Linked DNA regions of Homo sapiens: regions 1 and 3 are each linked to region 2. The links come from fine-mapping of genetic effects on gene expression. A gene starts in region 2. Each other region holds a variant in brackets. All regions are shown on one strand. Distances are between the middles of the regions. Region 1 holds the start of TAGAP (T cell activation RhoGTPase activating protein). Region 2 holds the start of TAGAP-AS1 (TAGAP antisense RNA 1). Region 3 overlaps TAGAP-AS1 (TAGAP antisense RNA 1).

Region 1 (10,385 bases), 48 kb after region 2:
CACATGGAAAGGAGTTAGGAGGGACTCACACAGTAGGCCACTTTCAGCGCCACTTTGCCAAAGCACAGAGTTTGAAACTATTTATTTATTTTTCTCTTTTGCTATTTTTTCACTTGCCTTTACTTTGGAAAAAACTATTACATAGACAAGTTTTCATTTAAAATCAGTTCTGTTACCAGATGTTGTATGTTGTTAAGAGCAGCATCTGAACACAATTATTTCTAAATTATTTAAGTCAACTATCTTTACCACTCTAAACGTTGTTACCAATTTATTCCGTTCCATCAAGAGATAATCTGGATATCAATTACGTTAACATTTTAAATTAACATGAACATTAACTTTTTTGGTGGAGTGCTGACTATATGCCAGCTGTCGTAGTAGGTGCTTTGCATGGATTTTCTCATCTAATCCAAAAAGGAAAAAAAAAAAAACATATCCCTAGGATGCTAAAATAGTAAACATGAAACAAAGATAACATTTACAGAACTCCTACACCAAAAAGGTGCAGCCTTCACGTTGAAGCAAAGCTTTGTCCTGAGACTTTATAAAGTGAGAGCATATTCCACGGGATAGCTGTTTTCTGTTGCCTGTGATCTGAGTGACCTGTGACTTGCGAGGCAGCTTGTAATTTCTAGGCATGTTAATATATAGTGTACTTACCCTTGGAGGGTCTCTAGCCAGAGTTCTTTTACATCCGGTGAGCTGTAAAGAATGGGAGAAACAGCATAACTCTCTGCTCCTTCTAGTCCACTGGGAGAGAGAGAGACCGAGCCGGTCTCCCTTCACATGCTCTGCATTATAAGCGAAGGGGCGGGCAGGTGGAAATTCAGAATATTACAGAGACCGGAAAGAACATCATGGGCTGTCACACGGACGGAGCCAGCCAGACACTGGAGAGCTCTCGCTTCCTCATTCCTTTTAGGGCAGCTATGTCTTTTTTTTTTTTTTTTTTTTTTTTTTTTTTTGTGTCTTCCACTTCAAAGTAAAAAATCTGTAAACTACTAGGAGTGGAAAACATGACATTCAGCCCATAGGTGAAGGCTCTGATTAATGTCATAGGTGGGATGTGTGAACAAGAAATTGTGTTATTCTGTGCATAAACATCACTTTATTTTCTAAAGTGGTAATTTCAAGTGCCTCTTTTTGCATCCTGTTTGGGTGCTCTTTCCCCTCCCACGTGCCATCTGCTCTGTCCACCAGCACCACACGTTGATTAGCACCCCTGGATGTGGGACACTGTTACAGAACCAGAAAGAAACCCAAGACAGTCCCTTCCTTGAGGAACAATCACCGTCCAAAGCCAGGTTAGTTTCCTTTGGAAGTAGAAAGAAAACTCCCTCGAGTCAGTTGTCAATATAGTAACCCCCTCCTCCTTTCTGTAACTCCTGGTCAAAAGTATTGATACTTAATTTACAGTCAGAGCAGCTGTCGTTCTGACACGGAAGGAAAACAAACAAAAAAATTCCTTTGATCAGACCAACTTAAAGTAGGAAAGAGATGGTGAATTTCATTTGTGGATCACTCTTCTGCATAAGAGAATTTCTGATCTTTTCTGTAGATCAAGGGCTATATATGAAACCACTCAAATGCCTCGACACGAGAATGGATGCATAAATTGTGATCCATTCACATAGGGAATGAATGTTGTATAGCACTGATAATGAACAGCCTATGACTATAGCCAACAATATGGTTGGATCTCATAATATGACGCTGAGCAAAAGAAGCCAGACGTGAAAGTGTATATCCTGCCGGCTCCCATTAATGCAAAGCACAAAATTAGCAAAAGTCGTCTGTGCTGTTGGAAGCAAGAGTAGCAGTTTCCCAGAGGGGATGGTAATGACTTCCAGGGGCCAGCGGGGGGCTTGGTGATGGTCCATTCTTGATCTGGGTGGTGCTAGGCTTATGTGCACACTTCCCTATTTATGTAATTTTTCAATAAAAAGTTTTAAAATAACTTGGCTTCATTTATCATCAGCATCTTTAATTTTAAGACTTTTCCGCATTGTCAGTTCTTTTGTCATTTTACTGAAAGGAGGTGATTATGGGGCAGACTTTGGGAAACCGAAGCACAGAGAGGTCGAAATTTGCTCTGTAACTTAGCGGCTCGGTGGGGACCTAGGGACAGATCCTGGTTTTCAGGCTTCCAGCTGGGGGCTCCCTCTCTGAAAGCCACCACAGTGCCAGAGTTCACCCAGTGTTCCCAGGGCAGCTGTAGAGGCCACCACTCTTTCAGCATCCCTCTCCTGCCTTTATAAACCTCCAAAGTGAACTCACTGATTTTTTTAATTGAAAAAGGGCATTTACGCTGTGCCCAGCCTAGTGCTAGGCATATAGTAGGTACTAAATAACTAATTTCTGAATATATACATTTCCTTATAAAATAGCCAAAATAGAATATTACTATAATGTTCTATATATCATAGAATATATATGTGATGTATATTCATTGCTAGTATGTATTTTCTAAACTTTTTTTTTTCCCGACAAACGGACTTTTCAAATTTTTGTAAGAAACTTAATGTACTTACTGTTCTTTCTTTTTTTTTTTTTTTGAGATGGAGTTTCGCTCTTGTCACCCAGGCTGGAGTGCAATGGCGTGATCTCGGCTCACTGCAACCTCTGCCTCCTGGGTTCAAGTGATTCTCCTGTCTCAACCTCCTGAGTAGTTGGAATTACAGGCACGCGCCACCATACCTGGCTAATTTTTGTATTTTTAGTAGAGATGGGGTTTCGCCATGTTGGCCAGGCTGGTCTGGAAATCCTGACCTCAGGTGATCCACCCATCTTGGCCTCCCAAAGTGCTGGGATTACAGATGTGAGCCACTGTGCCCAGCCTCAGCATCTTTTAAAAATACATAACATGAATGGTTTGATGACCTGCAGAAATGGTTACATCGACGGACTTTTCTTTTTCTTCTGGGACCTACCATGCCTAGTTAAGCACCCAGGGAACTATCTAGGATGAAAAGTTAGTAGCAAATACGGCAACAGAATTAGGGCCCCTCCATTTTTTGAAACAGAAATATGTTTTGGCTCTTCTTATTGACACAACTGATGGTGGGAAAGCCCAGAGGGAGGTGCCATCCTTTGGGGTCCCTGGGAGATTTTGACAGTCAACATCTAATGAATAGGTACATTTTGTGACTGAAGGAAAGCCACCATTGTTGGCTGGTGCTGCTGGGGGACTGAGGAGACGTTCTCCTTTATGACTGTGGCCCCGCCTGCATATGGCGCCTACTGTGGAAAGAGAAAGAGTTGTGAAGGGCAGGTGCTGCACCCTCAACTCTGAAAATCTCACAGTAATTTTGATCGCAGTTTTCCGAGCACTAGGAGAAACATTTATAAATAAAGTGTAAAATTTGGAAGCAGTCATGCCAAAAGTTAGAAAAAAAGATGGAAATGTCAGATTCACTTTTTCCATATTCTTGTCTCCCACACATCTCTTTGAAAAGCAAGCTCTCATCGTCCTGCATAGTAAGAGTCTTCAGAACGTGGAAAGGAACTTCAGTGGCTTTTGCTGGGTTGGGCTGAAGGAAACCCCGGTGAAACCCACACCTGTAAAGATGCTTCTCACAGTGGGACTTTTATCGCTTGGGTCCTGGTCACAATCAATTTTTCTGCAAATAATTGGCTTTGCTTTTCTTGTGGTGAGTCTCTAAGGACAGTGAGTTCCGTTCTGGGGACTGTGAGTTCTATGCTGTGTACATGTGTGCTTTGGAGGGTGACTGGAAGCACCATCGTTCCTTCCCATACTTTCAGGCTCAGTTACCGCTTCAGTCTGGACTGTTGTGAACGAGAATATGGAAGTCATTTTCCCCACATTGTTTACCCAGCTTGCCTGGGAAACACCAACTGGAGGATTAGAGTCCGGCTCTTCAGTTTGAACTCACTTTCCCTTTCTCTTCCTGGGACCACCCAGTGATTCAGAGCCCTGCATTCTGTAATGAGATTAATGTCAACAGTTTCCTGCATTGAAGATTATTTTCCCAAAGAGTTCACGATTTCCTTCAGGACTTCTCCATCACCCCAGTGTCTGGCTACCTAATGACTGATTAACAGGTTGATTTTCTAGAAAACTCAAATTACAATTTCTTTTTTTTAAAAAAGGGCAATCCAGCCTTTTCTCTGATTATCCGTCCTCCCCATCTCCCACTTGTCCTATGTTTTAGCCACACAGGCTGTTGTCATCCCCTAAAAGTGTGCTTCTGAGTCTCCAGGCCTTTGATAAATTGTTCCCTCCTCCTGAAATGCCATTCAC[G/C]CCATCTGCCTTTTGGAATTCTGCCCTTCCCTCGGAATCTAGCCCAAGTCCTATCTCCTCTAAGAAGGGACTTTTCTAGATTGAATTAAATTTCCTTCCCTGGCCCTGCATAGTGGCCGCACCCAGTAGACTGTGAGTCTACTTTTTTCATCTTTTATTCTTACAAGTGCCTGGCCTCATATTTTGCACACAGTAGGCATTTGCTATACTTTAATTACTAGTAAAATTGAGTGATAAAATAAAACATTTAAATCTCACCATACGTTTGCTGGTATTGCAATTTGTTACTCAGACTTTTTGTCACTTAGCCTTTGACTGTTTCGTTTCATGGAGAAAGACTACCTCTTTGTCACGCTGTAACAGAGACCATCGTTGCAGAATTTGATTGAGCTGGAGACAGCCTCTCCTTGCACACACCGCGGGCTTATGTCGATACCAATGTTGTGGGATTAGACACATGGACTCTCTAGCTCTGTGGTGAGGAAGGAGGCCTCGCCTTAGGTGGACTTGAGTGTCAGCTTCTGTCAGTGAATCTGTCAGGAGGGCGTGACCACACCTGTCCAGCCTCTCACCTCCCACCCTCCAAGGACCAAAGCCTTACCAGTGTTCTCACCTTAGACTCCCTAGTTCTGTGTGCTCTGGGAGGTGTGGACGTCCCCAGAGCCATGCTCCTCACTGTCTGGTGGCAGAGGAGGACTTAGCATAAAGGACTCCGGGGGCTGGGAAGTTGGTGCTCACTTTGAATGACGGTCTTGGATTCACTAATCTGCAAAGTACCCAACCTGCAGAATCTTTTATGCGGTGACTTTGGTTATAGCGAATTAGCAATAAAACTCCTTGCCTGCCTCTCCTCTAAGAAACTTCTAGGAAAGTCTGTGGGTGGGGAAGATATGCCTGGAAGAGACGTTCTCACCTCTCTGCAGGCCCCGGGCTCACAGATACAGGCAAGGACTCAGTCTCGGCTACGGTAAATACAGTTCAGTCCTTTAAGGTCATTTTTTAATTTTTGTTTTTTTTCCTGGCAGGAGAAGGGCTGCCTTCCAGGGAACTTCTCAGAGGTTTGCTGGGACCCTGGCATCCCTGAAATAATGTCAAGCATCATTTCATCTTGCAAAATAATTTGCTGTCTCCACAAATGGCTGCATTTCTGCAGTAGTGGAAGCAGACATTTCAAATTTGCCCCCTCAGATATTTGCAATTATGAATTTATCTTTGTGTTGGAATACAAAATAGGCTCAGCATAAAATAATATTTGAAGAACGCTGTGTTTTCAAAAGCTGGCTTGAAAACTAAGAAAGGCTCAAACAAAATGTTCTTTTTAAACTGGCTTCTCCACTTATTGTGATCAAGATGAAGAATTAAAAATAAGACATCCTGAGATTAGGTGATTAGAAGCTGTATGGCTGATGACACAAACTGCTATGGGACCCAGGCAGGGCCTCAGCTTAGCCGCGCTTATCACTGCTATGGGACCCAGGCAGGGCCTCACCTTAGCTGCGTTATCACTGCTATGGGACCCAGGCAGGGCTTCATCTTAGCTACATTATCAGTGCTGTAGGACCCAGGTAGGGCTTCAGCTTAGCTGTGTTTATCACTTTAAGAACTAAAGAATGTGGCTGGGCGCGGTGGCTCACGCCTGTAATCCCAGCACTTTGGGAGGCCGAGGTGGGCAGATCACGAGGTCTGGAGTTCAAGACCATTCTGGCCAACATGGTGAAACACTGTCCCTACTAAAAATACAAAAAATGATCTGGGCATGGTGGCACACGCCTGTAGTCCCAGCTACTCAGGAGGCTGAGGCAGGTGAATCACTTGAACCCGGGAGGCGGAGGTTGCAGTGAGCCCAGATCTCACCACTGCACTCCAGCCTGGCAACAGAGCGAGACTCCGTTTCCAAAAAAAAATAAAAAATAAAAACAAAAAAACTAAAGAATCTTTTCTTTCTGTTGATATTTTGGCCTGAAAAATTGCACAAGGCAAACATGATGTCAAAAAAGGCATGTCAGCAGCCCTGAACATCAGTTAACTACAATATGATTTGGTAGGTTATTTTTTTGAAGAAACAAAGAGAAAACTATGAAAGCTGAGGTTCTTTGTTAGCAGTCTACAAAATTCATGTGCAGCATTTGTAAAAATCTGAACCAAAAAAGTAGAAATGGTGGAAAAATGTTTAGTTTGCCCCATGCTTTTAAAATGCCTTTTAAAGATATATTTACTGTAGTTGACTTTGGTTTTTTTACTGAGCACTTTTTTTCATTTGTCATATGAAAAAAATTATCCAGGGCTTTTACCTCCCTGTGTAAATTTTAAAAAAGAAAAGTATTTGTTATTTTGAATGTGTGTGGTCCCCTTCTCAAATATGTGCCTTATTTGGTGTCTCCTAAGAAAATCTTTCAGTGATGCCCTCCCAAGCGGCCCCTGCTCCTCGGGGTTGGGGAGCGTGGCCACTAGGCACGCAGCTCCTGCCAGGGGAAGCAGTAAGGGGGTCTCCAACCTGAAGACAAACTCTCACCTGGCCGGAGCGGGCTTGCCAGTGCTCAGGGCACTGTGCTCATTGGTGGCTTCACATCTGATTTTCACCTTTTCACCCAGGTTCAGCTAGCAACCATTTAGCAAGTCCTAACCCTTTGTGGCTGGGTCTGTGGAGTGCTTTCTTTTCCTGGCAATTGTAGCCTTCCTGATGGACTAGTCCAGACTGGTTCTGATTTAGACTCTAGGACCAGTCCGGGGGAAGGGTTTAAAGCTAGTGTCATCTTCTGTGTGAAAAGACTTTGGGCAGAGGGGCAAGGGAAAGCCACGTAATTTTTGCAAACCTGATGCTGCCTCCTGGGCTTTTCTTACAGAAAAAAGAATCATAAGATTTCTCCTTCTGTTTTTGGGTCATAAAACATTATGTAACACACTAGAAAGCATTATATATATATATATATATATATATATATATATATATATATATATATATATATTTTTTTTTTTGAGATGGAGTCTCACTTTGTTGCCCATGCTGGAGTGCAGTGGTGTGATCTTGGCTCACTGCAACCTCTGCCTCCTGGTTCAAGCAATTCTCTGCCTTAGCCTCCCGAGTAGCTGGGATTACAGGCACCCGCCACCACACCCAGCTAATTTTTGTATTTTTAGTAGAGACGAGGTTTCACCATCTTGGCCAGGCTAGTCTTGAACTCCTGACCTCGTGATCCACCTGCTTCGGCCTCCCAAAGTGCTGAGATTATGGGCGTGAGCCACCGCGCCCAGCCATGATACATATTTAAAAAAATTTCCATATCTTTCCTAAGTTTGCATATGTTAACTGGAAAACTGAGCCCAGAAGCCCTTTCTCTGAGTTGTAGCCTTTGTGAGATCTTCCATAAATCTCAAACAGCAACCATTTCTCAAATGTGCAGTGCAGTGCTGCTCCAAGTTGATCGCGTATCAGAATCACCTGGAGGTTCATTCAAACCTAGACTGTGGCCTCCACCTTGGAGCGTCTGATTCGGCAGGTCTGGGGAGAGGCCTGAAAATGTGCATTTGTAATGAGTACCCAGTGACGCTGATGCAGCTGGTCTGAGGGCCACACTCTGAAGGATGGCTGTGGAAGCACAGTAAGACCTCATTTAATGTCATCCATAGATTCTTGGAAACTGTGACTCTAAGCAAATCAACGTATAATGAAAACAATTTTCCCATAGGCTAACTGATGATGTAAACAAGAGTCAAGTTCCTGTGGCATATTTCTGGTCACAAAAGGATCACTGAACTTTTCAGTAAAGACCCATAACACTTCAAATATTAAACATTGAAATAAGTGTGAGCTATACGTACATTTAGGAAAGATGAATAAAAACAAAGAGGTTCATTATTTACCTGCTCATTCCAGTTCAGGGTCTGGGGTGACAAGAGACCATCCTGGCGGCTCAGCTGCCACCCCATCGCAGGGCACACTCACACACACACCTAAGCTCACTCAACCTGGGACCACATAGACACGCCAGTTCACCGAATGGCACAGCTTTGGGATGTGGGAGGAAACCAGAGGACCCAGAGGAGACCCATGTGGATGTTGGGAGAGCATGGAAATTCCACACTGAGAGTGGCCGTAGCCGGGAAGAAATTGTTTTTCTTCATCCACGTGATAATGAAATGACATTGAACAAAATGATGTTATTTGAGGGCCTGCTGTATCATGAAAAAGTAAAAAGTAAAATGTATTTAATATATTCCTGCTTCCTGGCTTTGGAGTAGTTTATTTAACGGCATTTTTATAATCACTAGGTTATTCCATGATTCCTTGCTAGCTTTCACGTTCTATCTTGCCCCTTGAAATTAGAGTGCAGGTCCTTAAATTGAAGCAATTCATTCTTACACCCCAAGACAAGCCTGGGGTGCACAGTATGAAGTACACAAATATCCATTTTTAAGAATGAGTAAAACAGGTGCCCAGCCTGAAGCTGTACTTCTGCTTTTTTGGATATTTGGACACATTTCTTCTTCTGATTGCTATGCTCAACCATGTTTTCCCAGACAAAAGCTGAGGGCTACTCCAAAGGAATCGTTTACACTTTTATGTTGAGACTAAGCCCTAGACCTTTCACCAGGTGGCTAAACAGAAGAGAGAAGGCATCTACTGCTTGGCTCACTTAGAGCCCCGAGATCTAACTCAACAGAGGCTTTGCTAATTTTACTTAATTTTTTCAAATAAATGTGGTATTTCCCTATTGGCGACTCACTTTCAATGGCCTGGGTTAAGGAAGCCAAATAGACCACCAGGTGCACAAACTTGTCTTGAACCTAAGAGCCAGCTGTATGTCCACGGGGCGTCTGTTTTTTGTGAGAGAGCTCAGCTCTCCACAAATGCCCCTTGGAAGATCCCTAAACACTTGAAGGTGAGCTTCCTTGACCACCACCTGCAAGAACACTCGGGGTGTGTGTGTGTGTGTGTGTGTGTGTGTGTGTAACATTATCCTTTCATGATGCATGTTTACCATGTACAAATGACCAGGTCGACAGAGTAAATAAGGCGTTAGTTGAATCTCTCTGACAATTGAGAAAAGGCAGTTTAAAGTTTAAATATCAGTCCTTCTCAAACTTGGCTGCACGTGAGAATCCCCTGGGAAGCTTTTTAAGAATAATCAATGCCCACACCTAATCTTTGACCAATAAAATGGAAATTTCTGAAGACGGGATTTCAGGATTAAAAAAAATTCTCCAGAGAATTCCAACATGCAGCTTAACCAGTGATCTCAGCCACAGTTTTTGGGGTCAACTGATCTGTCAGTTTTATAATGGGATCCTTTTCCACTGTAACCACAGGCACCAGGCAATCTTAGAAGCAGCAGGTACCTTGTCCGCCTGGGTGGGAAGCTGAGCCTCAGCGTCCCTCCATTGAGCAGCGTCGTCTCAGGAGCACTATTTCCCTAACTTACCCCTTCTCACCCACAAAGTGAGAGAGCTGAGGTGACTTAGAATCTGCTGCAGTCTTGTGGTTAATGAAATGTGGCCATAATTCTTTGAGGCGGCTTCTATCAAGACACGGAGTCTACTTCCCCACTTTATATGAGGCTGCCCTCATGACTTGTAGAATGCAGAAAAAAGGATACTGTGCTCCAATGGCCTCAAAGTTTCCACCTTTGCCCTCTTGAATGCAGCCCTGAGATAGCCATGTGAGGAAGCCATACAAGCTTCCTGGAGGATGAGAGACCACGTGGAGGAGAGACAAGGTGCCCAGCCCACAGCCAACACCAACTCTCAGACGTGTGTGTAAGGCCGTCTTGGGCGATCCTGAATGTCATCTAAGTGAGACCGTGTGAAACCAACAGTAGAACTGCCCAGCCAACCCGTAGAATCCTGCTAAATCAGAAATTGATGCTGTTTTAGGAGACTGAGTTTTTGGTGGTTATTATTCAGCAATAGGTGCCTGAAACAAATAGTGACTCCATAAATTGTTACCATGACTTTTGCACATGCACCCCCAGGGTAACATTGCAATGCATTGCAAATGCAACTTTAAAAAGCACTGATTTAGCCTCGTTCTCGGTGGAAGCAATCCAGCTTTATTTTAAAGCATCTTAGTGAGCTACTGATACAGTATTTCTCACAGTGAGCCCATGATGCATTTTTTAGTGTG
Region 2 (10,323 bases):
ACATAACATGTTCACAGGTTCTGGGGACTAGGAAGAGGACATCTTTGGGGAATCATTATTCTGCCCTCTACGGTGATTTTAAACCTTATTTGACCTGAGTAAAAATAAAAATAAAAAAAAGGTATGTTCTAAGGTTTTAATTCATTTGCATTAAAAATGTTATTTTATTGGAAGGGTTATATATCCTTTACCAAAGGATTTGTAAAATGAGGGAATGTCATTATCACAATTGTCTTTTCACACATGCCTAAAGGTGAATTTAATGGCATTTATGATCACCCAACTACCAAGAAATACATAAAAGATGTATTACATTCTCTTGTTTGTAAATGAGAAGACTAGTATTCAAATGTTCTCTTTCAGCTTTATAATCCTATGAAAAGGTGGAAGTTCTTGATTCACATTAGACTTGTGTTAAATTTCTAGACCCTTTCAAAGGAAAAATCAGATACTCCCATTTCTGTATTTGTGTAACTGACTTCTCATACCTAAGTAAAACTTCACAGCTTTCCAATTAAGTTTCATTTTTTGGTTTCAGCCCAGTTATATATACCCAATCAAGATAATTTAGAACCTTGACTCCCTTCAGTCATAAGTTAGTTATCCATTCCAGCCATGTGTCATCTGAAAAACTGAAGATTTATCCAGTTCAACATAAAATTTTGAACATGAAAGAACTAAACGACATTCTAGGATAGAGACAGATTGACACAAAAGCATACTCTTTTTGGATATGGTCATTTAGTTACTCACCAGCAAGTACTAAAAGTACTGCTGTGGTCTGGATATGGTTTGTCGTCTCCACTAAAACTCACATGGAAATTTAATTTCCAATATGGCAGTGTTGGGAAGTGGGGCCTAGTGGGAGGTGTTTGGAACATGGGTGGATCCCTCATGAATGGCTTGGCACCAGTTCTCGCAGTAGTGAGGGAACTCTTACTCTCAAGAGACTGGATTAAGTTCTCACAGGACTAGTTCCAGAGACAGCAAGTTGCTACAAAATGAGGTACTTCCTCCTGTTTGGCCACTTCCCACGGATCTGCTTCCCCTTTGACCTTCTCCATCATGTTATGAAACAACAAGAAAAGCCCTCACTAGAAGGCAAGCAGATGCCAGCACCATGCTCTTGTACTTCTCAGTCTGCAGAGCTGTGAGCTAAATAGATCTCTTTATAGACTATCCAGTTTCAGATACTCTGTTAGAGCAACATAAGATGGATTAAGACAAGTACTCTCCTGAACACTTTTTTTTTTTTTTTTTTGAGACAGAGTTTCGCTTTGTCGCCCAGGCTGGAGTGCAGTGGCGTGATCTTGGCTCACTGCAACCTCCGCCTTCTGGGTTTAAGTGATCCTCCTGCGTCAGCCTCCCAAGTACCTGGGATTACAGGTACATGCCACCATGCCCGGCTACTCTCCTGAACACTTAAAAAATATTTTATTCATAAGGATATCAGAGGAGAATATTATCCTTATCCATAAGCAAATTATGGATAAAATATCAGTATTTTATCCATTAGGATATCAATGATTATGATTTGTAAGATAATACTTCCTCAAAATTGAGATTTTTCTGTCTTGTGCATTACTCAGATATACTAATAAACTAATCAATAGATTACTTCAATATACTAATCAACTATCAAAAAAGTTGTTCCTAATGAACCACCATTGATTCTTGTTTCTAATCTGTTGGTCTGATTGGATAGTAATGATTTGTAAGCAACCACTTAAAGGCACCAGAAAGTGTTTTTGGAAGGATTAGAAAATTTTAAAATTGAATCCTTTTCTAATATAAATGATCACTCTTCAAATTTAAATTTTCTATTTTAGTTTTCTTACAGTGATAGACATCTCTTATAGAAAAAGAATTTGTTAGAACAAGATAATTATGAATTTAGAAAGAGCGTTTGAAATAAGCATCAATAATTACATTGTTGATGTTCAATCATCAGTTTGACAATTCGTATTAAGTGCTTACTATGTACCAGGCATTGTACTAGGTGAACAAAAGATGCAAAAGTTCCTGCATCCATGGAGCTTGCATTCCTATAAAGTTCTGCTGAATTCAACATTTGAGGCTTATGGAAAGAACTTTAGAGAACCGTTTAACTTTAAGAGAACTTTAAGAGTTTATGTTTTTTTTGCTGGGTGTGGTGGCTCAGGCCTGTAATCCCAGCATTTTGGGAGGCCGAGGCGGGCGGATCATGAGGTCAGGAGATCGAGAGTATCCTGGCTAACATGGTGAAACCCCGTCTCTACTAAAAAAATACAAAAAAAAAAAAAAAAAAAAAAAGAGCCGGGCGTGGTGGCGGGCGCCTGTAGTCCCAGCTACTTGGGAGGCTGAGGCAGGAGAATGGCGTGAACCCGGGAGGTGGAGGTTGCAGTGAGCCGAGATTGTGCCACTGCACTCCAGCCTGGGCGACAGAGCGAGACTCCGTCTCAAAAAAAAAAAAAGAAAAAAAAAAAGGCTTATGTTTTGTTTTTTTTCTTTCCTATGTATGTTTGAATATTTGCAACTGTTCATGGATGTAAAAACACAAACTGCCGTCCGGGCGCGGTGGCTCACGCTTGTAATCCCAGCACTTTGGGAGGCCGAGGCGGGCGGATCACTTGAGGCCAAGAGTTTGAGACCAGCCTGGCCAACGTGGCAAAACCCTGTCTCTACTAAAAATACAAAGATTAGCCGGGGGTGGTGGAGGGCGCCTCTAGTCCCAGCTACTTGGGAGGCTGAGGCAGGAGAATCGTTTGATCGGGGAGGAGTGGGGGAGGGGGGCGGAGGTTGCAGTGAGCGGAGATCGCGTCATTGCAGTCCAGCCTGGGCGACAAGAGCGAAACTCCGTCTCAAAACAACAACAGCAACCACCACCACCACCACCACCACCACCACAAAAAACCAATCTGTGGTCCTGCATGGAAGAATAATCTTACTCCTGCTCAAAGCCTGCCGAAGAGATTTACTCGGCTCCCATTTTGGATATGCTACTGTTGGATATCTTTGCACCGCGGTCTCCTCATCTGCATAATGGAGTTATAAAATCAACTTCACAGCACTGTGGATTAACTAAGAAAACGTATTTGAATGCCCCCCGTAAGGTGCTCAGCACGTAGTTGGCCCTCAATACACACTGGTACAATTCAAACTTTGTGAAATGAGCCAATTCGTGTACATGTTAAGGACCACGGCAGCAACTCATATCACTAAAAGTTAACTGATGCCCAACCCATGCCCCTTCCTGCTTCACTCCTCCACACCACGGGAGATTCCTTAGGGCAGAACTTTTATTTCGGCAGAGTGCAGCCAAGGGAAGACAGCATAAGCAGCTTTTTTGCCAGGGCGAAGGGGCCAGACCCCGGCCTGGGGATGGGGTGCAAGTATGGACCACACAGGGGCTGGCTTGGTCACTCACGGCTGCGTCAGGCTGTCCCGGTAACGGCTGCGCTGGCAGGGCAGTGCTCGGGGCCGGCTGGTGTAGGTGTAGGTGCTCGGGGCCCGAGAGGTGCGATCAGTCAGCGCTGAGGCCATGTCCGGGGGCTGACTGCCTCGCTTTCGGTGGAGCTTGGCTTTGAAGCAGGTGGGCGCTAAGGTGTTGTGGGACCCGGAGAGATGTAAGTAGTGCCAAGGGCAAGGATTCCGCGACGCGAGGAGAGGCGACAACAAGGGAGGCGGGCGGGACGGGAGGTTACCAGCGCAGGAGGTGGGAGCTATACTGGGCTCGCTCCCAGCACCACAGAGACCAGCTGCGGGGGCCGCATCGGTTGCCCAGCAACCCAGGGTTCTGTCTGGGGGCGGGAACTCCGGGCAGTTCCGGTCCCCAGGTTTCCCGGGAAGGACTGCGGCACAAGGGACTTCCGGCTCTTGACTCCGCCCAGCCGCGCCACCCAGGTAGGTGCGCCTGCGCTTTGCGAGGTTCCTGGCTAGGGAGGCGGCCTTGGCTGGCTTGACCGTCATCCTTGAGGCCTGCGGGGCAACGGTGGCTGTCCTTGGCCCGGCTTTGGAATGTGGCTTTGCAGGGCTGGTGTTGGCGCCATTCTCGCAGGCCCACGTGCTCCTGCTCTTCCAGGGTGTCCTCGGCTGTTTCTCCTGCCGCGGCGCAGCAGCGCTCCCAGGCTGCCCCCGCGATAACACGCCCCTGGCAGCCAGGCTCCCAGCTCTGTTACGTGCCCGGGCGGGGAAGAGCTTCCTGGTGTCTCCCGGCTCCTGCCCTTCTCCCGCCCCAGGGGCGGGCTGCCGCCGCCCTCTGCAGCTGAGTCAGTGCAGTTCCTCACCTACCTTCTCTGCTCACCGCTGTGTGCTAGCAATCGGAGGACCCTTGGCACACGGAGCGACAGGGGCCTCCCCCACAGACACCTCATTTTGGGAAAGAAGTGAGCAATTTATTGAGTCTTAAAAAATACAAAGGCATAGTTCCCCTTAATCTATCAGGCTTCCAGCTCTAAAGAATGTCTCTAGTATTGCGGGGTGGGGCTGCGCTTAAAAACGCAGACGCTTTGGTTTTAGTACCAGCAACGTTAAAAATCTTCTATCTTGTATGAGTGAATGTGTATCCCTTGTGATCAGTTATTTGCATTTGCAGTTACACCTTCATTCAGCTAATTGCTGTCTTGATTTGAATCCAGGTTCTAGAATGTACTAGCTCCGAAACCTCAGGCAAGTTAAATGTTTTTGTGCTTCATTTTCCTAATCCACAAAGTGGCAATAGAAGAATTTATCTCTTTAGGTTTTGTCTTGAGGATTAAAACCGTTAATACTTAGAGCTGTGCCTGGTAAATGGCAAGCCTTTATATTAAGATCTGGACCGTTCTGTGCTTTGAAGTGTATGACCTAAAGCAGATGTAGGCATTCTATAAGTAACACTAGCATAAAGGTGTATGGTAAATTCTAGAGGTGAAAACACTCCCAACATATTTTAGGTCTGATCATTTAATTTTGAGGTAATTTCTGAAAGGGCTAGAGGAGAAAGTGACATTTAAGTTGTGTTTGATAAATGATAGTATTTTAACTGGCCAGCCTCTTGGGGGAAGTGCATTCGGAATGGCTTGATCAAAGGCTCAAGAAGCCCAAGGTGCATTTGGAAAACTGTAAGCAAGGTTTGTGTAGATGAGTTGTAGAAATATATATAGACAGGCTGACACCACATCGTGGAAACAGTAAACACTAGCATATTAATTAGAATATTTTTTCCCTCAAGTAACAAAAAACCAATTCCAAGTGGCTGAAATAATAAGGAATTCATTATTTTACACTCCCCAGGTTGGTTAACCTGGAGGGTAACTTGGGGGCTCAGCACATTATCAACAACACGTTTTTTCCCCTACCTTTCCACTCTGTCACCTGGGTTGTTGGCTTCAACAAAGTAGTAATAGAAGTATCTGCTCTTTTGTCTTTATTGGAAGAGCAAAACCCCCTCGTAAACTCCCAACTGACCAGAATTACATCATATTGATTTAAGCTTAGGATCTATATAAGACCACCATATTTGGATTAGACCAGGTAACCGGTCTTTCTAGGCCTCCAAGAAACACTTGGCCAGGGAGGAGGAGAACAAATTCTGTTAGGAGGATGTTGGGGCAGAATTGAGTGGGTATTAAGTGGGTAAACAATAGTGCTATACCAGCCACAGTGGGCTTTATAAAGAAATTGATAGCCACTATAGGTTCTTGTACAAGTTTCTTTCTTTTTTTTTTTTTTTAGATGGAGTCTCGCTCTGTGGCCAGGCTGGAGTGCAGTGGCGCGATCTTGGCTCACTGCAACCTCCGCCTCCCCGGTTCAAGTGGTTCTCCTGCCTCAGCCTCCTGAGTAGCTGGGACTACAGGCGTGTGCCACCCCGTCCAGCTAATTTCTGTATTTTTAGTAGAGGCGGGGTTTCACCATGTTGGCCAGGATGGTCTTGTTCTCTTGACCTGGTGATCCGCCCTCCTCAGCCTCCCAAAGTGTTGGGATTACAGGCGTGAGCCACTGTGCCTGGCCTGTACAAGTTTTTATCCACAGCCTGTTTCTCTTCTTGTACTTTCTCCCAGGGCAGTCCCATTTCACGTCTGTAATTTCTAGTACCACCTATATACTCAGGGTAGCAAAGGATGTATCTCTAACCTAGACTTCTCCCTCAGGTGACAGTCCTGGATATCTGACTATTTTGTGGACAACTCTTGGATGATCTGAAACTGAAAGATTCATTCCACAAATAGTTATGTGTATCTAGTATGTGCCAAGCATTGTTGTTTTCTTGTCCCTCGTCCCCACTCCCCTGGTGTTAGTGGGGATATAGCAGTGAAAAACAAAAACAAACAACAGATTAAAAGTCCTGCCTTGACAGAATTTATATTCTAGTGGAGGAGTCATACAAACAAGAAAAGTGAGTACATTATGGGTGTTACATAATTATAATAGCTAATTCGAAATAAAGCAGGAAATAAGGCTAGGTGCTAGGGGCATGGGAGACCTATCAATTTTATAGTGGTCAGAGAAGGCTTCATTGAGAAGGTGACATTTGAGTAAAGACTTGAAGGAGGTGAAGAAATGAAACTTGAGACTTGTGACTAATTGTCACAGCATTCCAGGTCAAGGAAGCAGCCAATTCCTCGTTCTAAGGCAGGAAGTCGTGTTGGGGATGGCAGTAAGAGTGAGTGGAGCAGAGTGAGCACAAGGAGGAGCATTCGGAGATGAAGTCAGAGGCTGGGCCGTGCGCCCTGTTGTAGGTCAGTGAAAGGACTTTAGGTTTTACTCTAGGGTTAAAAGTCCCTAAAGGGTTTTGAGTAGAAGCTTGACATAGTTTGATTAAAAAAATTTGTTTTTTCTAGTTGTTTGGTTGAGAATAGACTGAAGTGGGGCAAAGGCAGAAGCAGAGAGACCAGATAGGAAGCTGCTCCCAATAAGGCTGGTGAGAGGGTGGCTTGGATCTGGTGTAGGTGTGGTGCTCGGGCCCGAGAGATGCAGTGAGTCAGTGCCGAGGCCATGTCGGGGGACAGACTGCCTTGCTTTCAGTGGAGCTTGGTTCTGGATCTGGGACAAAAGTGGTGGGAAGATCCCAGCTCAATTTTGAAGGTAGAACAGATTGGACGTGACGTGGTGCACGAGAGAAAGAAAGGCAAAAGAGATGAACCTAAGGTTTCTGATTAAATGTTAGACATTGTGTAGGAAAAAAATCACATAGAGGCTCTGGCAAAAAAAAAAAAACTAAATAAATAAATAAAAAATAAATAAATAAATTGCATAGAGACTGTGGCTGATGTTGTGTTTCTCCAGAAAGGATTTAATTTTATTCTGGCAAGCAATTAGAGTAGGAACGGATGACTTTTTTTTTTTTTTTTTTTGAGGCGGAGTTTTGCTCTTGTTGCCCAGGCTGGAGTACAATGGCACTGTCTTGGCTCACTGTGGCCTCCACCTCCCGGGTTCAAGCAATTCTCCTGTCTCACCTCCCAGGTAGCTGGGATTACAGGTGTGCACCACCATGCCCGGCCAATTTTGTATTTTTTTAGTAGAGACTGGGTTTCACCATGTTGATCAGGCTGGTCTCGAACTCCTGACCTCAAGTGATCCACCTGCATTGGCCTCCTAAAGTACTGGGATTACAGGTGTGAGCCCCTGCGCCTGGCCTCAGATGACCTTTAATTAGGGATTCAGACTTTGTGAGGGCTGATCATTTTCTAGTTTGGCCTTATCCCAGAGCTAGGCCTTTCTATTCTTTCTCAACATGAACATCTGTGGTATTTAACAGGTCCCCATCTTTGGGTGACCTTGAACTCCAATTTTTGTACTCCCAGCTCTGTGAGACTGTTGAAATGTACACTTAGCATTTTAGCTATTTAGCAACTGTTTGGTTTCTTGATTTCCAGTGCCCTTACAGCTTAGAATTCAGCAAATGCCTCAAGGATAAAAGCCAAACTAAATGTCAGACTGGCTTCTCTATGATCCTCCTTTCTTTGGGATCTGTCCCTTCAAGTCCTATCCGCAGTTTTCAACTCCAATTTTTTATCTCCCCGTATCTGAAAGGGCCCTGATACCTCCAGGTCACTGCTTTCTGCTCGCCATAAATGCCCTGCACAAAACTCAGCAAATGACCCAATCAGAAAAAGCAATGGAGAAGTTCTGTATCACTTTATGCATCTGTCTTCTGGGATCCCAGTCTCTCATGTCTTGACCATCTTGGTTGCTCTCCAGTGTCTTCAAACAGCCTGTGTAGTTTTTGTTATGTGTGCTTTTTTAAATGTTCAGCTCTTGTGCTTATTCCCATGAGAGGACTGGTTTAATTTAAACTATTCAATTACAGCTAGAGGCCATGATAAAGTTGTTGACTAGAGTATCTGGAAGAATGGAGTTGCCATTTAGTGATAGAGGGAACGCTGGGGAGGATCCATTATTGGAGTGAGCATTAGCAGCTTGGTCTGGGGCACATCAAGCTTGGAAGGCATGTTAGTCATCCAAGTGGAGATGTTGAGTAGACAGTTGGACATGGGAGTCTAGAGTTTCAGGAGATTGGTCTGGGCTACAGAAGTGGATTTTTGAATCAACAGCCATGAGACTTGATAAGATTACCAAGGGAGTGTAGAGAGATAAGGCCTTGAGTGTTCCAATATTTAGAGTTTGGAAAGATGAGGAATAATCAGCAAAGGAGACTGCAAAAGAGGGCCAACAAAATGGTAGAAAATGCGGAAAGCCTGGTCACCTGGGAGTTAAGTAATGAAAGTGTTTCAAGGAGAAAGTAATCAGCTGTATCTAATGCTATACATGTGCTAAGCAAGATAAGAACATTGGATCTAGCAGCATAGAGGTCTCTGGTGATCTGAAAAAAGGCAACTTTCATGAAGTTGTAGAAGAGAAAGTTCAGTTATAATGGATCCTGAAGAGAGTGACAGAAGAGCGATTTATGACTCAAGGAAAGAAAAAACAAATGGGCTGGTAGTTAAAGGGAAATTGAGTCAAGAAAAGGTTCAATATTTTTTAATGGTAGAATTGACCGTATGTGTATGTGCTTCTAGAAGTGATTCAGGAGAGAGGGTGGAATGGATGGTGTGGGACGGAGGGAAGAATTGGTGGAATGATGTTGGCAAAAAGGAATAGGCTTTTGTGCATAAGTTGAGGGATTGGCCTTGCCTAGAAACATGGACAATTCGTCTATAGTAAGAAGAGAAAAGGTAGATCTATGACCACAGACATAGTCAGATAATCATTTTAAAATTCTTTAATCAATAGATGTTTCTGATGTATGGCAGGCAGTAAGCTAAGCAGTTTACATACCTGATTTCATTTAGTTATTATAACAATCCCAGTCTAACAATGAGGTAGATTCTGATATTATTCCCATTTAATTTGCAAGGAACTGAAATTTAGAGAAGTTAAAATGACTTACCAAAGTCATATAGCAAGCAAGTGACAGGACCAAGACTTAAGCCCTTGACTGCTGGACTCTAGAACTTAAGCAAGAAAGCATCAGCTTATGATGTTCATTGTCCTCCCACTCCCAGATCCCCCATTTCTTGCCCCTTTTGCTTGTTCCCCCTCCCCTCATTCTCCATATCCCAATAATCACTAAGTCCTGTCCATTTTACTTCCTCAGTGTTTCTTGCTTCTGGATCCTCTTTTTTGTATCCTTCCTATTCCTACCAGCCTTTGACCTCATCATTCTGACCTCATGTAGTCTAAATTAAATCGTCTATGGAACCAAACAATAATCGAACAGAATGTGATCCTTGATCATGCTTGCTCCATAACCCACTGCCTAATGAGTTCAAGTTTCTTAAACTATGCTATAAGCCTGCCACTACCCGGTTACTGCGTATTTTTCGAATTTCACATCTCACTGATTTCTGTCTTGTACTTTTTTTCTCAGCAGAGCTGAGCGCTTGCAGTCCCACTGCATGAACTATCATGTTTCCACGCTGTGTTTGTGCTTTATGATTTTTCCTTGTCTCTTTTCCTGGATTTTTTTTCTACTCCTCTTTTAAACCTCAGCTCCTGTTGCTTTCTCCAGGAAGGCATTTCTTTTTTTTTTTGAGACAGAGTTTCACTTCTTGTTGCCCAGGCTGGAGTGCAATGGTGCTATCTCGGCTCACTGCAACCTCTGCCTCCCAGGTTCAAGCGATTCTCCTGTCTCAGCCTCCCAAGTAGCTGGGATTACGGGCATGCACCACCACACCTGGCTAATTTTATATTTTTAGTAGAGACAGGATTTCTCCATGTTGGTCAGGCTGATCTTGAACTCCCGACCTCAGGTGATCCACCCGCCTCGGCCTCCCAAAGTGCTGGGATTACAGGCGTGAGCCACAGCACCCGGCCAGGAGGCCATTTCTGATGCCTCTAACTTGGGTTCATATAGTTTGCAGCCAC
Region 3 (10,385 bases), 27 kb after region 2:
AAACAAAAAACAAAGAGGAATCTTAAAAGCGTAAATAAAAATGACACATTTTATATATAGGAGAATAATGATTTCAATGGTTGTGGACTTCTCAGCAGAAATTATAGAAGTCAGGGACAGTCGAATGAAATTGTTGAAGTGCTTAAAGAAAAAACTGTCAGCTTAGAAATCTCTGTCTAGCAAAAATACCCTTCAAGAATGAAAGCAAAATGAAGACATCTTCAGATATCAGAAAACTAAGAGAATTCATCACCAGAAGACCTGCACTTCCAGAAGCTAAAGAAAGTTGTACAGACTGAAGGGAGATGATATGAGAAAAGGAATAAAAAGCATAAAAAATTATAAATATTGGAGTAAACATCAAAGACCAATTTTCCTCTTAATTTCTTTCACATATGCACAACTGTATAAAGGACATAATATTGACTTAAGGTTTATATCACATGTAGATAGATTTTATGGCAGCTATGGCATAAAAGATGGTGGCAGTGTTGGTGGTGTGGCCGGGGAGGGTAAATGGACCAGTAAAATTGCCAGTAGACTGAGAAGTTAAGGGATTATATTATAGTCTCTAGAGGAGCTTCTAAGAAATCATGCAAAAGACTAAAAGACCAATAGGTAAGTTAAAATGAAATTATAAAAATATTCACTTAATCCAAAAGAATATAGGAAAGGGAGAACAAGAGGGACTAACAGCAGAGGAGACAAACATAAAGCAAATAATAAAATAATACAGCATAACCAATTAGTTTTATCCCAGGAATTCAAGGTTTGTTTAACATTAGAAAATCAATATAACTCACCATATTAACAGAATAAAGGAGAAAAACCATCTGATCATTTTCATATGTAGATAAAAAATATGACAAAATTTGATATCCATTTATAAGAAAAATTCTCACCAAACTGACTATGAAGGACTTCTTCAACTTCATAAAAAGCATCTATGAAAAACCTACGGTGAGCATTATACTTAATGGTGAAATATTAAATGATATTCTACCAAACTCAGAAAAAAGGCAAATGTGCTCATTTTTTTTACCACTTCTACTCAATATTGAATTGGAGCTTCTAGCCACTGCAATAAAGAATGATAAAATGATAAAGATTGGAAAGAAGGAAGCAAAATCGTCCTTATTTGCAGGCAATACGATTGTTTACATATGATTGTTTTCTACATCCTAAGGATCTAAAAAATAATTAGAAGTAGTATATTATTCCATTCTCACACTGCTATAAAGAACTACCTGAAACTGGGTCATCTTTGAAGAAAAGAGTCTTAATTGACCCACAGTTCCACAGGCTGTACAGGAGGCATGGCTGGGGAGGCCTCAGGAAACTTACAATCATGGCAGAAGGTGACAGGGATGCCAGCACGTCTTCACATGGTGGCAGGTGAGAGACAGAACGAAGGCGGAGGTGCTACACACTTTTAAAAGAAGCAGGTCTCATGAGAATTCCATCACAAGACAGCACTAGAAGGATGGTGCTAAACCACTAGAAACCACCCTTATGATTCACCTTTCACCAGGCCCCACCTCCAACACTCAGTATCACAATTCAACATGAGATTTGGGTAAGTACACAGAACCAAACCATATCATTTTGCACCTGGCCTTTACCAAATGTCATGTCCTTTTCACGTTTCAAAAAACAATTATGCCTTCCCAAGAATCCTCCAAATTCTTAACTCGTTCCAGAATTAACTCAAAAGTCCCAGTCCAAAGTCTCATCTGAGACAAGGCAAGTACTACTCCTCTGCCTATGAGCCTGTAAAATAAAGAAACAAGTTAGTTAGTTCCAAGATACAGTGCAGGTACAGGCATCGAGTAAATGCTCCCATTCCAAAAGGGAGAAATTGGCCAAAACAAAGGGGCTATAGGCCTCTTGCAAGCAAAACCCAGGAAGGCAGTCATTTAATCTCCAAGCTCCAAAATACTCTCCTTTGACTCCATGTCTCACATCCAAGGCACACTGATGCAAGGGGTGGGCTCCCAAGGCCTTGGGCAGCTCTGCCTCTGTGGCTTTGCAGGGTACAACCCCCAAAGCTACTTTCATGGGCTGGGATTGAGTGCCTGCAGCTTTTTCAGGCGAACAGTGCATGCTGTCAGTGGATCTATCATCCTGGGGTCTGGAAGATGGTGGCTCTCTTCTCACAGCTCCATTAGGCAGTGCCCCAGTGGGAACTTGGTGGGAGCTCCAACCCCACATTTCACCTTCACACTGCCCTTGTAGAGGTTCTTCATGAGGGATCCAGTCCTGCAGCAGACTTCTGCCTGGACATCCGGGTGTTTCCATACATCCTCTGAAATCTAGGCAGAGGCTCCCAAGTCTCAACTCTTGCCCTTTGCATACCCACAGGCCCAACACCATAGGGAAGCCATCAAGACTTGGGGCTTACACCCTCTGAAGCAATGACCTGAGCTGTACTGTGGCCCCTTTTAGCCATGGCTGAAACGGGAGCAGCTGGGATGCAGGGCACCATGTCCCAAGGCTGCACAGAGCAGTAAGGCCCTGGACCTGGCCCACGAAACCATTTCTCCCTCCTAGGCCTCTGGGCCTGTAATAGGAAGGGCTGCTATGAAGGTCTCTGAAATGTCTTAGAGGGATTTTCCCCATTGTCTTGGCTATTAATATTTGGCTCCTTTTTACTTATGTAAATTTCTGCAGCTGGCTTGAATTACTTCCCAGAAAATAGGTTTTTCTTTTCTACTACATGGCAGGTTGAAAATTTTCCAAGCTTTTATACTCTGCTTTCCTTTTAAATATAAGTTCCAATATCAAACCACCTCTTCGGAAATGCATATGAGCATATGCTGTTAGAAGCAGCCAGGTCACTTCTTGAATGCTTTGCTGCTTTGAAATTTCTTCCACCAGATACTCTAAATAATCTCTCTCAAGTTCAAAGTTTCACAGATCCCTAGAGCAGGGGCACAATGCCACCAGTCTCTTTGCTGAAGCATAGCAAGAATGACCTTTACTCCAGTTCCCAATAAGTTCCTCATCTCCCTCTAAGACCTCCTTGGCCTGGACTTCATTGTCCATATCTCACTATCAGTATTTTGGTCAAAGCCATTCAACAAGTCTCTAGGAAGTTCCAAACTTTCCCTTATCTTCTTGTCTTCTTCTGAGCCTTCCAAACTGTTCCAACCTCTGCCCATCCAAAGCTGCTTCCACATTTTCAGGTATCTTTTGTAGCAATGCCCCACTTCTCTGATACCAATTTCCTATATTAGTCCATTCTCACACTGCTATAAAGAACTATCTGAGACTGGGTAATCTATGAAGAAAAGAGGTTTAATTGACTCACAATTCTGCAGGCTGTACAGGAGGCATGGCTGGGGAGGCCTCAGAAAACTTACAATCATGGCAGAAGGTGAAGGGGAAGCCAGCACATCTTCATATGATGGCAGGTAAGAAAGAATGAAAGGGGAGGTGCTACACACTTTTAAAAGAAGCAGATCTCATGAGAATTCCATCATGAGATAGCAGTGGAGAGATGGTGCTAAACCATTAGAAACCACCCCCATGATCCAATCACCTCCCTCCAGGCCCCACTTCCAACACTCAGGGTCACAATCCAACATGAGATTTGGGTGGGGACACAAGAGCCAAACCACATCAAGTAGTAAGTAAATACGGCAAAGTATATGAAATTAAAAATACAAAAATCAATTCTGTTTTCTTTTTTAAATTTTACAGGCAGGGTCTTGCTCTGTTTACCTAGGCTGGAGTGCAGTGGCACAATTATAGCTCACTGCAGCCTCAAATTCCTTGGCTCAAGCAATCCTCTCACCTCAGCCTCCTAAGTTTCTGGGACTACAGGCATGTGCCACCATACCCGGCTTATTTTTTATTTTTGTCAAGATGGTCTCACTCTGTTGACCAGGCTGGTCTCGAACTCCTGGCCTCAAGTGATCCTCCCGCCTTGGCCTCACAAAGGATGAGATTTCAGACATGAGCCACTGTGCCTGGCCAATTCTATTCTTATATTTTAGCAGCAAACCACTGGAAAATGAATTGAAAAGCAATTTCATTTATAATAGGTTCAAAAATAAAATATTTAGTAGTACATTTAAGAACAGATGTACACAGGTGTATATCTACATTTAGATGTACACCTGTTACACGTAACAGATGTACACATCAGCATAGTGTATTATTAAACTTTTAGATTTTTGCTTATCTCATGGGAGAAATAGTGTCTTCGTGTAGTTTAGTTTTTTTAAAAAAATGAGTGAACTTGTGTATCTTTTCAAAAGTTAAAGAGCCATTTGCTTTTTTTTTTTTTTAAACATATTTTAAAATAGAGAGTGGGTCTCACTATGTTGCTCAGGCTGGTCTCTTAGCTTCTGGGCTCAAGCTGTCTGCCCACCTCAGCCTTCTAAAGTGCTGGGATGACAGGCATGAGCCACCATGCCCAGTTCCATTTGCTTTTCTTTTTCTGTGTATTGGCTGTTCGTATCCCTTGCACATTTCTTATTGAGTTTTGTTCTTTCCCTTATCTTTTTACAGGAACTTTATATGTTATAGAAGTTAGCCCCAAGAATGAAATCGTGTCCTTTGCCAAAACATGGA[TG/T]GAGCTAGAGGCCTTTATCCTAAGTGAGTTAACGCAGGAACAGAAAGCCAAATAGTGCATGTTCTCACTGATAAGTGGGAGCTAAACTATGGGTTCACAAAGGCATGCAGAGTGGTACTGTGGACATTGGAGACTCAGAATGGGGGAGGCTAGGAGGGAGGTAAGGGATGAAAAAGTACCTGTTGGGTACAATGTACACTACTTGGGTGACGATGGGTCCACTAAAATCCCAGATTTAACCACTGTACAATTCATCCATGTAACCAAAACCCACCTGTACCCCAATGCTATGAAAATAAATAAAACCAAATTAGCTCTGTTTCTGTTAGATGAGATGCAAATATTTTCCCAAGTTTGTCCTTTGTCTTTTGACTTTGTTTATGGTGTTTCACTCATGCAGATGTTTTTTATTTTCATGTTTTTAACTTGTCATTATTTTCTTTCATGTCTTCTGGATTTTAAGTCATGTTATCAAGGCTTTCCCACTCTGATATTATAAATGAATTTTTCCTCATTTCTCTTAGAACTTTGATTCTTTCACTTCCCACATTTAACCTTCCACGTATCCAGAATTTCCCCTAGCATAAGTTGATACGGTCCCAATGTTTCTTTTTTTTTTTTCCCAAATGGCCACTCATTTATACCAACACCATTTATTGAATCGTCTATAGTCCCCACTGATTTGAAATGCCAGCTTTACATACCAAAGTCCTGTATGCATTTGCCTCTGTTCTGTTTGGTAGGTCTATTCAAGCTCCAGTTCCCAAAAGTGTTGAGTGTCGCTTAAAATCTAGAAGGGCTGGTTTCTAGTTTTCCATAATTGCTCCTCTTTTCTAGTGTCCTCTGTCCTATTAGGGCTTATTGATTTTTAAATATGATTTGTGGATTCAGTTTTCTTTAGTTCTAGTGAGCAACAAAAACAACCAAGAAAAAAATAAAAAAAACCCTCCCTGTTTTCCTTTCTTTCTTTCTTTTTTTAATCAAGATCACCTTAAGTTTAAAAATTAACGTAGGATAACTTGACATATTTTATGATTTTTATGTTACTCTCCAAAAATATAATAAGTGGTTCTATTTATTCAACTCTACTCCTTTGTCCTGCAGGAACATTTTGTTTCCTTATCAAGTCTGATATTGTCTTTTGGTCTGAGATAGACATATTTAAAAAAATTGTGTTCATTGATTTCTATCTTATTAAAGACTGGTTTTGCTAACTTTGTTCCTATCTATTTTTTGTGAACGTACATGGGGCCTTTTCTTTTGCTATATTTTCTAGCTATTAGTATGTACAGAGGCTTTTGATTTCTGTGTATTTATTTTATACCTTGCTTGCTCAGTGTGTTTTATTTCTAGTAATTTTTGTTATTAGTTGATTCTCATGAATTTTCCAGATATCCAATTATATAATTTGTAAATAGTCATAGCCTTACCTCCTCTCCTACAATTTTTGTTTCTCTGATTTCTTTCTCTTGTCTGGTTGCTTTAGATAGTACCTCCAGAGTGTGTTAGATAATAAAGGGAAATAATGCCAATCAGACTTTTTTCTGACTTCAAGGGAGTTTCTAGTGTTTCCTTATTAAGTCTGATATTGCCTTTTGGTCTGAAATAGACATATTTTTTTAAAAATTGTGTTCATTCATTTCTATTTTATTACATATATTTTTAAAAAACCTCAAAAGGCCTGGTGCAGTGGCTCACACCTGCAATCTCAGCACTTTGGGAGGCTGAGATGGGAGGATTGCTTGAGGCCCGGAGTTCAAGACCAGCCTGATCAACATAGTGGGACCCTATCTGTATTATTTTTAAAAACATAATAAATAAAAACCTCATAATGGAGATTAAATTTTGATAGGGCTTGTCTTACTATCTATGGATCTAATCATGTTACTTTCCCTCTAACTTATTAATATGATATATCATATTAATAATTCCTACATCAAGTCATATTTGCATTTTGGAATAAATGTCACTTGGTCATCATATATTCTATTAGATAATATTTTATAATTTTTACATCAATATTTGTAAGACTGATCTGTAATTTTCCTTTTTGTGTATGTGAAATTGTTACTGGGTTTTGGTAGCAGTTATAGTTGCTTTATCAAGATAATTTAAAAGTTTTTTTTTTCTTTTTCATAGTCTAGGTAGTTTAAATAGCACTGGAATGATCTGTTTTTTAAAGATTTGGAAGAAATCCTGTGAAACCAACTGGACTTAGGGAATTAGGGAGAGTGGTTGGCTAGTTTCTTTGTTTCATCTATGAAATAAATCTGCTTAAGATTTTTCTGTTTTTTGTAATCAGGTTGGTAAATTATGTCTTCCTAGAAAAATGATAATCTCATTCATATTTCAAATATAGTTGCATAGCGTATTCAAATATATTAATACAATATATAATATAATATATATTAATATAATGTATATTATGTATTATAATATATAGTACTTCAAATATATTTGCATAGAATATTCAAATATATTTGCAAAGTAGTCTTTTGATTCTTCTAATTTTCTGTAGTTATTGTCCCATTAGCATTTCTCATGTTGTATGTTTTTAATTTCTCCCTTTTCCTTGCTTAGATTAAGCAGAAGTTTGTTTTATTTATTTTTTCAGAGAGCCAGCTTTGGTTGTATTTATCAGTTTTATTCTTTTTCTGTTTTCTAAATTATTAATTTCAACTTTATTTTTATTATTTCCTTTTCTAGCTCCATAAGTGGTATGCTGAATTCATTCATTTTTACTTTTGTTTATTAATATAATCATATGAGGATGTAAATTTTCATCTGAACGCCACTGTAGCTATATCTCAGATTCTTGGTGTTAATATATATAATTAGCTGTTGTCATAATTATGATTTATGGTAGAAAGCCACTAGAGAGTTAAGAAAATAAGTGAATTTGCTTACTTAGGATGGGCCTAAATTAAGAAGGGCCTTGAATGATAGATGGTAGGCAGAGGACTTTAGACTCAATAAAAATAGTGTTAAGAAGACATTGAAAATCCTTGGTTAGGAAACTAACAAGATACGTGTTGTTTGGAAAGATGAACAGCCCGTATATCAGCAGTTACCTTATCTACTGCTTTGTGTTTTTCAAAACAAATTTTGGATAAGAAATGCCCTTTTCAGCAAAGATGGAAAAATAACATCTAACTATTTACTTCTCAAAGATATTGCCAAATCCTGTAAGTGAATATCCAGCTGGAACCTTCCACAATTGTTTTGAATGTTGTACTTGCACTTGTTTGAAATCTTTAAGTTTCCTTTAAATGTGAAGTATATCCTAAAGTAATGAGACCATGAAGCAGCCATTCATTTCTACTATGTATTTTGTGTTATTATCACTCACTTGGAACTTACCTTTGCTGTCAAAGGTGTCTTATTTCTCTACTAGATTGTAAATTCCTTATACAAATGCAATATTTTTATATTGTAGGAGGCCAATATTTGTTACTAATTTATTTTGCTTAAAACTACTGTTGTATAATTGTAAAATTCTCACAGTGAGCATACAAATAATTGAAATACTCTTGAGACTGTTATCTACCTTATCTTTTTATTATTCCTAATCATATGGAACATTTTCAATGGTCTCATATTAAGTAGATAGTCTACTTTATCCTGCCTTTTTAATCATTGAGCAACTAAATTTGGATTTGTTTCGTTGTACCTACGATCTCTTTTATTTGACTTTTGTGTCAAGGCCTTGCAGTATCCATCTCCTAATTTCTTACTGATTTTGCTGGGAGAGGCAATTGGCTATAAAAACTGTATTCTTAGGTTCCTCTGCTGGTAAGAGTAGCCACGTACTGGCCGAGTGCGGTGGCTCACGCCTGTAATCCCAGCTCTTTGGGAGGCCGAGGCAGGCAGATTGCCTGAGCTCAGGAGTTCGTGACCAGCCTGGGCAACACGGTGAAACCCCGTCTCTACTAAAATACAAAAAATTAGCTAGGTGTGGTGGCATGCGCCTGTACTTCCAACTACTTGGGAGGCTGAGGCAGGAGAATGGCTTGAACCCAGGAGGCAGAGGTTGCAGTGAGCCGAGATCGTGCCACTGCACTCCAGCTTGGGCAACAGAGTGAGACTCCGTCTCAAAAAAAAAAAAAAAAAAAAAAAAAAAAAAGAGAAGCCACGTACTAAGTTCTGGCCTCTGGGATGGAGGTAGAGGTTATTGAGCAGAAAGTTCCTGCTTGGGATCTGGAGGGAAAGGTTGGGGGAAGAGGATCATGTTCCCAGAAAGGATGGTAGACTAGAAAGTTGAAGTTGTGCACAAGACTGGCTACATAATTTGCAGGGCCCAGTGCAAAGTGGAAATGCAAGGCTCCTGTTCTCAATTATTAATACTCTAAAAATGCCAATAGCAGAGAATTACCCTAGCATTGGGTCCACAGGTCATAGCCCCATGCAACTGGCTCTGAGTATGAAGGAACCCGGGGCCGGAGGAGGCCATGAGCCTTCATCCCAGCCCTGGGCTGCCAGTCTGTTCTTTTCATAGAGCGCACAAACCTCCTTCTTGGTTAAGCGTCTGTTGTCTGGGTTTTCTGTTACATGCGTTCCGTAACTGATGCAAGTTATCATTACCCTCATCTGATAGATGGAGAAACCGGAGCTCAGACAGGTTTAGTGCCCTGTGCATGGGAGCAGATTTCGGGGTATTCACAGACTCAGGTTCTGTGAATTTGGGTCGTATATTCATTCTGTGTCAACACGTTGTCTTTCTTTTTCCACGGAGATGTTAACATTCTGCATTTCCTATTTCTGGCCAGATTTTGCATTCTGCAAGTTTGCTTGTTTCACAATGCCCCCCTCTTTGTAGCCTGTAGTAGGAGGAAGAACTTCATCCCATTTGTTTTTCCTCATTTACATTTAATTTTTACTCTGGAGTGAACATAATGCAGAAGTTCAGTCCACATTTAAAATATTGCTAAAAAGTGATTCACTTCCAATTCTAGCAAAACGTTTATACCTCTGATTCCTCAGTAATTCTCTTTTTGCAGAGGAAGAGTTAAGATTACATAATTTAATTAAAAAAGAAACTGGAAACATGTAAGATCGCATCCGATGTGAGTTTCTGTCTGACCTTTCAAGAGAGAAGCATGTATTGGCGATTTTTCCAGTGAGATCATGATCAGAAGAATTTATCTATCAATGTATACTTTTAATTTAGGATAAACCTAAGGATAAACAGTGTTTGTAGCTCTTTGCACATTCTATCTATGGCCATAGGATGTGCTATGGCCATTAACTGTCATTTGTTTTGTTAGCGCTAAAAACCATAGCTGCGACTTCAACTTCCTAGGGACCCCAGTGTAACACAGGTGTTGTATTTGTTGCGTTCAAGTTCTGGTGCAATCTTAGTTTTGCTAAGCTCCTGCAAAAGCACCTAACACAAGTCAACATTTCTGAAACAAGTTTTAATTTCTTTCAGTCCTCAGTAGTGCTGGTGTGTGGGTTGGGGGCATGGTGCACAGTGTGTCAGCACAGATAATCCGTGTATCATGGGTCATCCACCTCTCCCCCTCTTTACCGGAGGAGAGAGCATCTCCCAGGGAATCAGACCTGAATTTAAGTTTGAGCTCCTAATTAGGCTTCCAACCCGGTTTTACTATACACTTTGCATCAGGTACATCTGTGATTGTCCCATTTGTCATTAGTGTGGGCCCTTAGGAAGTCAATAGAGGACAGAACTCTGGTGTTCCTGGATCCTTGACTAAAGCATCATTTTATTGTCATCTAAATCTCACTAGAAGCCCTAGCTCTCTGGTTATGGTGAAATATTCAAATTATTGGCATATTCAAGGTATCA

The links.
Region 1: its variant is fine-mapped to the expression of TAGAP-AS1 in whole blood (TOPMed, PIP 0.97).
Region 3: its variant is fine-mapped to the expression of TAGAP-AS1 in lung (TOPMed, PIP above 0.99).

Annotation. Positions count from the first base shown.
Region 1 is chr6:159,044,216-159,054,600 of GRCh38, forward strand. TAGAP (T cell activation RhoGTPase activating protein) reads right to left here and starts at 776. Exons shown (of 10, transcript NM_054114.5): 1 at 664-776. The variant G/C (reference allele first, on the strand shown) is at 4,265.
Region 2 is chr6:158,996,029-159,006,351 of GRCh38, forward strand. It overlaps TAGAP-AS1 (TAGAP antisense RNA 1), which reads left to right and starts at 3,845. Exons shown (of 5, transcript NR_183546.1): 1 at 3,845-4,364. RSPH3 (radial spoke head 3) reads right to left here and starts at 4,174. Exons shown (of 8, transcript NM_031924.8): 1 at 3,407-4,174. The coding sequence starts at 3,522. RefSeq lists enhancers at 2,917-3,888, 3,373-3,522, 3,543-3,592, 3,623-3,692, 3,863-4,022 and 2 more.
Region 3 is chr6:159,022,629-159,033,013 of GRCh38, forward strand. TAGAP-AS1 (TAGAP antisense RNA 1) reads left to right here. Exons shown (of 5, transcript NR_183546.1): 2 at 3,321-3,413; 3 at 4,516-4,602. Among named protein-coding and RNA genes, the nearest start is that of TAGAP, 17 kb to the right of the region's middle. The variant TG/T (reference allele first, on the strand shown) is at 4,579.